2 linked regions of the Homo sapiens genome follow. The protein of the gene in region 1 purifies or fractionates together with the protein of each later gene. This does not show direct contact. Each region holds a gene or a part of one and is shown in the gene's direction. Other genes may lie near its edges. The genes, in order: REPS2 and GNL2.

Region 1 (3,822 bases):
GAAAAAGAAAAAAGGGAAGACCACTGGACTCTGATGCCTGTGTCCCCCCAGTTCTTGCTGAGCCATGGGTCAGTAAATAGAGTACCCTCCTGATCTTGGGGTTGGGGCTAAAGGCATGTGGGACACTGGAAGGAAGAGTGGAGGGAACATTGAAATGTTTAACTTTTTAATTTTTATTTTGTTTTAAATCCACAGGATGTACTGTATTCTCAGCCACCATCAAAGCCCATTCGTAGGAAATTCAGACCAGAAAACCAAGCTACAGAAAACCAAGAGCCTTCCACTGCTGCAAGTGGGCCAGCTTCTGCGGCAACCATGAAACCGCATCCAACAGTCCAAAAGTAAGTAGACCACATAAACAAGAGTGAGGTAGGAATCTCGCTCTGAGATGTCGACGGATATGTAAATGTGTTGACATTTACGTGCGCACCAACAGAAGGATTTCATGGTTGTAAGTTTATCTTGCTCATCTCTGTGATGGGATTCAAGTCTCCCAGTCACATAGAAGGCTTTATAAGCTATAGGACTTAACCTGACCTAAAGGGGCAGGCGAGTCCTAGGCTGTGGTGTTTGGTTTGGTTTGATTTCTTTCCCTTCCTCTCACCTTCTGTTGTTTCCTACTCCTCTTCCTTGTGAGGGCCCAAATTTTCCTGGCAAGATGAAAGTATTGTAAGTGGCAATTTTGCCTCTCTGCCTGTGTTATCTCCTTTTCCTTCAGGGCAAATGGCTAGCTCCTTCACCCACAGACACACTTTCAGTAGGTGTGGTATGTGATTCTTTTAAAATCTCCGTAAAGAGTTTCTGTTGTTGGTCGCCTCAGCACAGAATGGATACATGCAGAACTTCCATTATATTTATCTAACCAGCTGGAACAGGTATTGGAGGGAGGGTGAAGACACCTGTGGACATGGCCAGGGACTGAGACAATGATGCTCTGGACAAACTATCCTTCTCTGTAAAACTTTGGCTTTGAGAAGAGCCATCACTTGCTTCAATTTCTTTGTAGTGAAATTGAGGGAGGTGTTGAGGACAGAAACCTGCTCCTGTCACTTGACTGCAAGTGAGCCTGACCGGTCACTAACATAAATGCTCAAGACCCATCATGACCCTGCTTTTGGGGTCTTGCAGGTCTCAGATGCTGCTGCAGATTTTCTTCTGCTTACACGTTGTAGAATGAAAAGCAGCAGGTTCTGTGGGAGATGTTAGCAACTTGTCTTTGAAGCCAAAGTCCCATTCTGAATCTCTGCAGCCCTCTCCTTCAGAAGATTTTCTTTTTTTCAAATGGACAGGTCCCTGGTGGTATCAGTCCATAAAGGAAGTATATTTTGTTCATCACATTCACCGAGAACTTTGACCATCTTCCAGCCCCTGTTAAGCCTGGAAGGTGAAGAATCCCTATCAGGGACAAAGATGGCTCAATTTTCTTCCATGTTCTACCCCAGCACTCCACTTTAATTTCAGCTTTATGTTCATTTTAGTCAGCAGTGGCTTAACAGTCTCCAGAGTAGATGTCAGGGCATCTGGTGGAGTTCATACAGAGATCTTTTCTTTTTCTCTTTTTTATAACAGCTTTATTGCAATATAATTCACATAGCATACAGTTCATGTTTTTAAATGTACAATTCAGTGGTTCTTAGTTTATTCACAAAGTCATGCAACCATCACCACAATCTAACTTTTGTCATGCCTAAAATAATATATATCCACGCCCATTAGCAATCACTCCCCATTCTCTCCTTCCCCCTCAGCCCCTGGCAACCACGAATCTCCTTTCTGTCTCCATGGCTTTGCATATTCTTGTCATTTCACATAAATGGAATAATGAAACGTGGTCTTTTGTGACTGGCTTCTTTCACTTAGCATAATATTTTCAAGGTTTATCCAAGTTGTAGCATAAATCTGAACTTATCTTTTTATGGCTGAATAATATTCCATTGTATGGATAGACCACATTTTATTCATCCATTCATCAGTCAATGGACATTTTGGTTATTTCTGCTTTTTTGGCTCTTAAGAGTAATGCCACTATACTGTTTGTGTACATGTTTTTGTGTGGACTTACATTTTCATTTCTCTTGGGTCTGTACCTAGGAGTGGAATTGCTAGGTCATGTGGTAACTCTGTCTTTAATATTTCGAAGAACTACCACACTTTTCATAGTGGCTGCACCATTTTATGTTCCCGTTGGCAACGTATGAGGGTTCCAATTTCTCCATTTTGTCAACACTTATCTTTTTTTTTTATTATAGCCATCCTAGTGAGTGTGAAGTGTGATCTCATGGTTTTGATTTGCATTTCTTTTGTGGCTAACGACATTGATCATCTTTTCATGTGCCTATTGGCCATTTGTTTATCTTCTTTGGAGAAATGTGTATTCACACCCTTTGCCCACTTTTAATTGGATTATTAATCTTTTTACTTTTGAGTTATGAATTCTTTATATATTCTGGATACAACTCCCTTGTTAGATATATGAGAAAATTGAGCCCTCTTTGTAAATATTTTCTCTCATTCTGTGGGCTGTCTTTTCACTTTCTATTTTTTATTTTTATTTTTTAGAGACAAAGTCTCACTCTGTCACCCAGGCTGGGGTGCAGTAGCATGATCATGGCTCATTGTAGCCTCGAATTCCTGGGCTCAAGTGATCCTTTCCCCCTCAGCCTCCTGAGTAGCTGGAACTACAGGCATGAGCCACCATTCCCAGCCAATTTCATTTTATTTTTTATAGTGATGGAGTCTTACTATGTTGCCCAGTCTGGTCTCAAACTCCTGGCCTCAAGTGATCATCCTGCCTCAACCTCTCAAAGTGCTGGGATTACAGGCCTGAGCCACTGCACCCAGCCAATTATCAATATTAATCAGATCTGTACAGTGGTCACAGTCCATTCTAGTTCAGTTGCTCTTTTCTAGAACCTATCTCCCAGTAATGGCACATATGGCTGTTTTTCTAGGAGAACATCAGTTGCTCTTTTGCTCTAAGAATTCGGTGTTTCTTGCTGTGGGATGAAAGGTTGTAGATTATCCCTGTGGTAACTGCACTGATTTATCATCCCAACCATGGACGGTTTTGAAAAGTAAAGAGAGTGCTAATGTACTTATGCTGGACAGACAGTTTTAAATGGAGACTGTAATGGGCGCAGTAGGATGCGTGGTCACTCTGGTTATGCGTGTTCTGTGAATTTGTTGTTAATTGGGAAATACTGGTATTAAAACGTTCTGTATTTTTCTCAAGAGCCACAGATATATGCTGGTCCATGCACATACACGAGTGCACATTTATGCACACACACACATATACTTAGGCATTCATGCCTAATAATACATAAGGTAGAGGTAGGTAGTCTGGCTAAGTTAATGTAGAATTTTTGCTAAAAATAATGTTCTTGTATTATTTTCCTTCAGACTTGTTCACAGGGGACACCTGCAGGTCTTCTAAGTGCTATTAATTCTTACACAAAAAGGGCATTCCAGTTAATATGGTTTGTCAGGAAGAAATACTTATTAAAATGTCTTGGAATAAATGGAACACAAATGTTTGAAAAGGCCCATTTCACAGCTTTTATTCAAGTTATAAAATGGGAATTACTTCAGGTGTAAATAATTCATCCCAATAAATTTGTTTCATTTGGTGTCTATCTTCCTGACCGCCTGTGAATATGAGATTTTATTTTTGGAGCCCTGTGTTGTTAACCACTTGTTAGTTTAACACCTCTCATGAATCAGAGTTCTGACCCTCAAGGGTCCAGACCTCTAAGTCCTTTTTCACTGAAGTGTTTGTGCTTTTCTATAGGCAGTCTTCCAAACAGAAGAAGGCCATTCAAA
Region 2 (3,822 bases), on another chromosome or scaffold:
GTCCTAAAAGATGTGACTAAAATACAAATGTCAAAGAACTTAATATGTGTAGTCATCTACTTTGCAGTTTGTTTTAGAATTTGGAATTCCGGCGTAAATCACCCTCTACGTGAAAAATTCATTTAAACCAGCCTTTGAATAATTACCCAAAAAACTCAAGTATGTATGTGTTTTTTTTTTAAAGTAAACAGTAACCAGATTTTTTAGAACGTCACCATTAGTTGTTATTCATCTAGCAGAAATCATTACGTGCTCTGTTGCAAGAGGTTAAATGGCTTTTGGGCAATCTGTTTCAAATGTAGAAGTACTTTGTGTTTACTGGAATTGGTATTTCATGATCATTTAAAACCAAAGTAAGAAGTCCTTTTGATGGAAAATATATTCTGTAAATCAAACTTCGCTGTTGCCATTTTTCTGTTGTCAACCAATATCTGTTCTTTCCTCAATTTAGGAACAGTCGTGGTAAAATAATTAAACCCCTGCAATATCAATCAACGGTGGCTTCTGGCACAGTGGCAAGAGTAGAGCCAAATATTAAATGGTTTGGTGAGTATTATCCCCTGTTACTTTGCTCTACAAAATATATGCTGAGTGGAAACGGCTAGGATGTTTAAATGTCTAAACAGCAGGAGTTTTTGGTGAGTGAAACCGGCAAGGATTATCTGAGAAAGGGATAAGAAGAATTACTGGGAAAAGTAGTGGTGGTCAATTTAATAAATAACTTCTTTTTGAAGAGCGCTCACCATTAGTAATTGTAATTGAACCCTCTTAAGCAGATAAGACCATCCTTAATGACTAGCATTCACAGACCTTAGAATGCTCATCTTAATCTTTTCTGCTTTCCTAAAGAGATACTGTTGGAGAGGTGGCCTTGTAGGTTTTGTGCATATATCCTTCAGGGTAAGTGCATTAGCCCGAAGTTCCTCTGAAATACTTCTTAATGGGGTTTTTATTTGAACTTGGGTGACAATTAAAGGGTCTCACTGTTGAACTGTCCAACAGTGAATAGAGTATCTTCAGTCTCAGGGTGATCACAGCTTCTTCCTTGGAAAACTCCCTGTCTCATTTCAGTCTGGGCTCTTAACTTTGCCCTTAGCCACTGGTAAATGTATGGGCACTTTAGATGATCAGACCCCAGTGTTTGCTTGGTGTTTGACCTCTGTCCTTGGGGGCAGGTGGCAGCTATCTTTGAGTCTCTTATACTTTCAGTGGGATACTTCCTAAGAACTGCAACACAGAAAGGTGTCAAAACTCTGCAGAGAAGCATTTAGCATGGCTGCTGGGTACTGTGACTCGATTAGACTGCCTGGGTTTGAATTCTAGTTCTGTCATTTATGTGCCAGTGGGCAAGTTATTAAGTCTGTCTGTTCATCAGTTTTCTCATCCCTAACATGAGAATAAGATGAAACCTATCTCATAAGACTGTCATGGTAATCAAATGAGTAAATACAGGCAGGGCGCAGTGGCTCACGCCTGTAATCCCAGCACTTTGGGAGGCCAAGGCTGGTGAATCACTTGAGGTCAGGCATTCGAGACCAGCCTGGCCAACACAGTGAAACCCCCATCTCTACTAAATATACAAAAATTAGCCAGGTGTTGTGGTGGGCACCTGTAATCCCAGCTACTTGGGAGGCTGGGGCAGGAGAATCCCTTGAGCCCAGGAGGCAGAGGTTGCAGTGAGCTGAGATTGTGCCACTGCACTCCAGCCTGGGTGACAGAGTGAGACTCCATCTCAAAAAAAAAAAAAAAAAAAGAGTAAATATATATAAAGTGCTTAGAATAGCGCCTAGCAAATAGTGAGTATAATATAAGCATTACTTGCTACCGTCATTACCACCTTGCTGTTTTGCATTTATGCCGCAGCATGCTGTTTAATTGAATGCTTTTCAGGGTCTCCCTCACAAGATGTTTTCCAGGTGGTGGTGCAGGGCTCTATCTTGTTCCCTTGCATGGACTCATTGGTTAATAGTCCCTTTGAATCCTCATAACCCTAAAAGTGGCTAACTATGACTCAAATTTCAGTGTTTCAAGATTCTCTGTCTATACTGACTGATCAGCTGTGATTGGCTCCAGGTTTCTCTGCTAGATCTAGCAGGTAGTAGGACATTTGACAGATCTCAGTTCCATTCCACGCTATTTATTTCTCAGTTTCATTTAGTTAGGAAACTGGACTTGGAAAACTATTGAAACCCTTTGTGGGTCTGGATTTGTGGAATAGTTCATAGTGTGCAAGTGCGGGAGAGGCAGTTTTTTGGTTTTTTCCTCTTTTAAGTTTGAAAACAGCTCCAAGGGATGGATGGATCAGGTGCTTGGGTAAGTGAGGGTAATTTAAAATCTTGCCTTTCACCGTGTCAGTGGAAGATGGATGCGCAAATATTAACTAAGTGGCAACATTCTTTATTTGTAAAACAGGAAACACACGTGTGATTAAGCAGTCATCATTACAAAAATTTCAAGAGGAAATGGATACAGTTATGAAGGATCCATACAAAGTTGTCATGAAGCAAAGCAAGTTACCAATGTCTCTTCTCCATGATCGAATCCGGCCTCATGTAAGATGTAGGATATCCCTGGTGATGGAATTTCCTGGGCAAACTCCATGCAGATCCCTCTCTAACATATTTGTCTTTTGTTTTTCCTTAGAAAATAGTGACTTTAATGTAGCAATGATGAACTTTCTAAGACCTCTCTTTTCACCTTTTCATGTTTAGTATGAGGTGCAGTAGTGTAGTGGATCAAAGCACAGGTTTTGGAGTTGAGACCTGAATTTTAATCCTTGCTCTATCCCTTCCTGTGCCCTTAGTTGGGTTTCTCCATGAACTTTAACTTCTTTGCCTTGAAAGTATAGATAGGTCGGACACAGTGGCTCACGCCTGTAATCCCAGCACTTGGGAGGCTCAGGCAGGCGGATCACCTGAGGTCAGGAGTTTGAGACCAACCTGACCAACAAGAAGAAACCCTGTCTCTACTAAAAATACAAAATTAGCCAGGCGTGGTGGTGCATACCTGTAATCTCAGCTACTCAGGAGAGGCTGAGGCAGGAGAATCGCTTGAACCTGGGAGGCAGAGATTGCAGTGAGCCAAGATCGTGCCATTGCACTCCAGCCTGGGCAACAGGAGCGAAACTCCGTCTAAAAAAAACAGAAAGTATAGATAACCGACCTCCTTGGGTTATTGGCTACAGATGAAGCATCTGTAAAGCACTTGGCCCATAGTGAGCACATAGCACACCACCTAATAAGAGCTAAATTGATAACAGCTATTAGTAATATTATTTATTTTGGTAGGCAAACTTGTTTTAAGTGGTAATTCCATCAAACTTTGGGACAGCGTAGAATTAGGATTGAGTTGGTAGAACTTTGGTGTTGCGTACGTTCAGCTTTTGTGAGATCCTTGAGATTTTTTCTCAGCTGAAGGAAGGGGTGCTGGTCACATTGGTTGTCAATTGCTAAAATTTGAAGTGCAGTAAGGATTCAATCTGGGTTGAGTGGAATGAGTTTCACACAGAACAAAGAAAGAATCTGTTGTTTGTCTGCTTATTTTTACTTGCATTGAATAATAAATTCCCAGAAATGTAGCCAGTACGTAAGCTTCAGTTCCAGTATGAGGAGGGGAGAAAAACATTGACATGCATACGTGGGTTAAATAGTTCAGGCTGGGCGCGGTGGCTCACGCCTGAATCCCAGCACTTTGGGAAGCCAAGGCGGGTGGATCACAAGGTCAGGAGATTGAGACCATCCTGGCTAACACGTGAAATCCCGTCTCTACTAAAAATACAAAAAAAAATTAGCCGGGCGTGGTGGCGGGCACCTGTAGTCCCAG

The links.
Region 2: the proteins of REPS2 (region 1) and GNL2 fractionate together in Homo sapiens (co-fractionation; one large-scale study listed by BioGRID). This does not show direct contact.

What each region holds. Positions count from the first base shown.
Region 1 is NC_000023.11:17,135,066-17,138,887, forward strand, and holds part of REPS2 (ralBP1-associated Eps domain-containing protein 2), read left to right. Parts: intron 1-195; coding exon 196-341; intron 342-3,790; coding exon 3,791-3,822. UniProt on the Homo sapiens protein: Involved in ligand-dependent receptor mediated endocytosis of the EGF and insulin receptors as part of the Ral signaling pathway. By controlling growth factor receptors endocytosis may regulate cell survival.
Region 2 is NC_000001.11:37,589,436-37,593,257, reverse strand, and holds part of GNL2 (nucleolar GTP-binding protein 2), read left to right. Parts: intron 1-451; coding exon 452-546; intron 547-2,412; coding exon 2,413-2,552; intron 2,553-3,822. UniProt on the Homo sapiens protein: GTPase that associates with pre-60S ribosomal subunits in the nucleolus and is required for their nuclear export and maturation.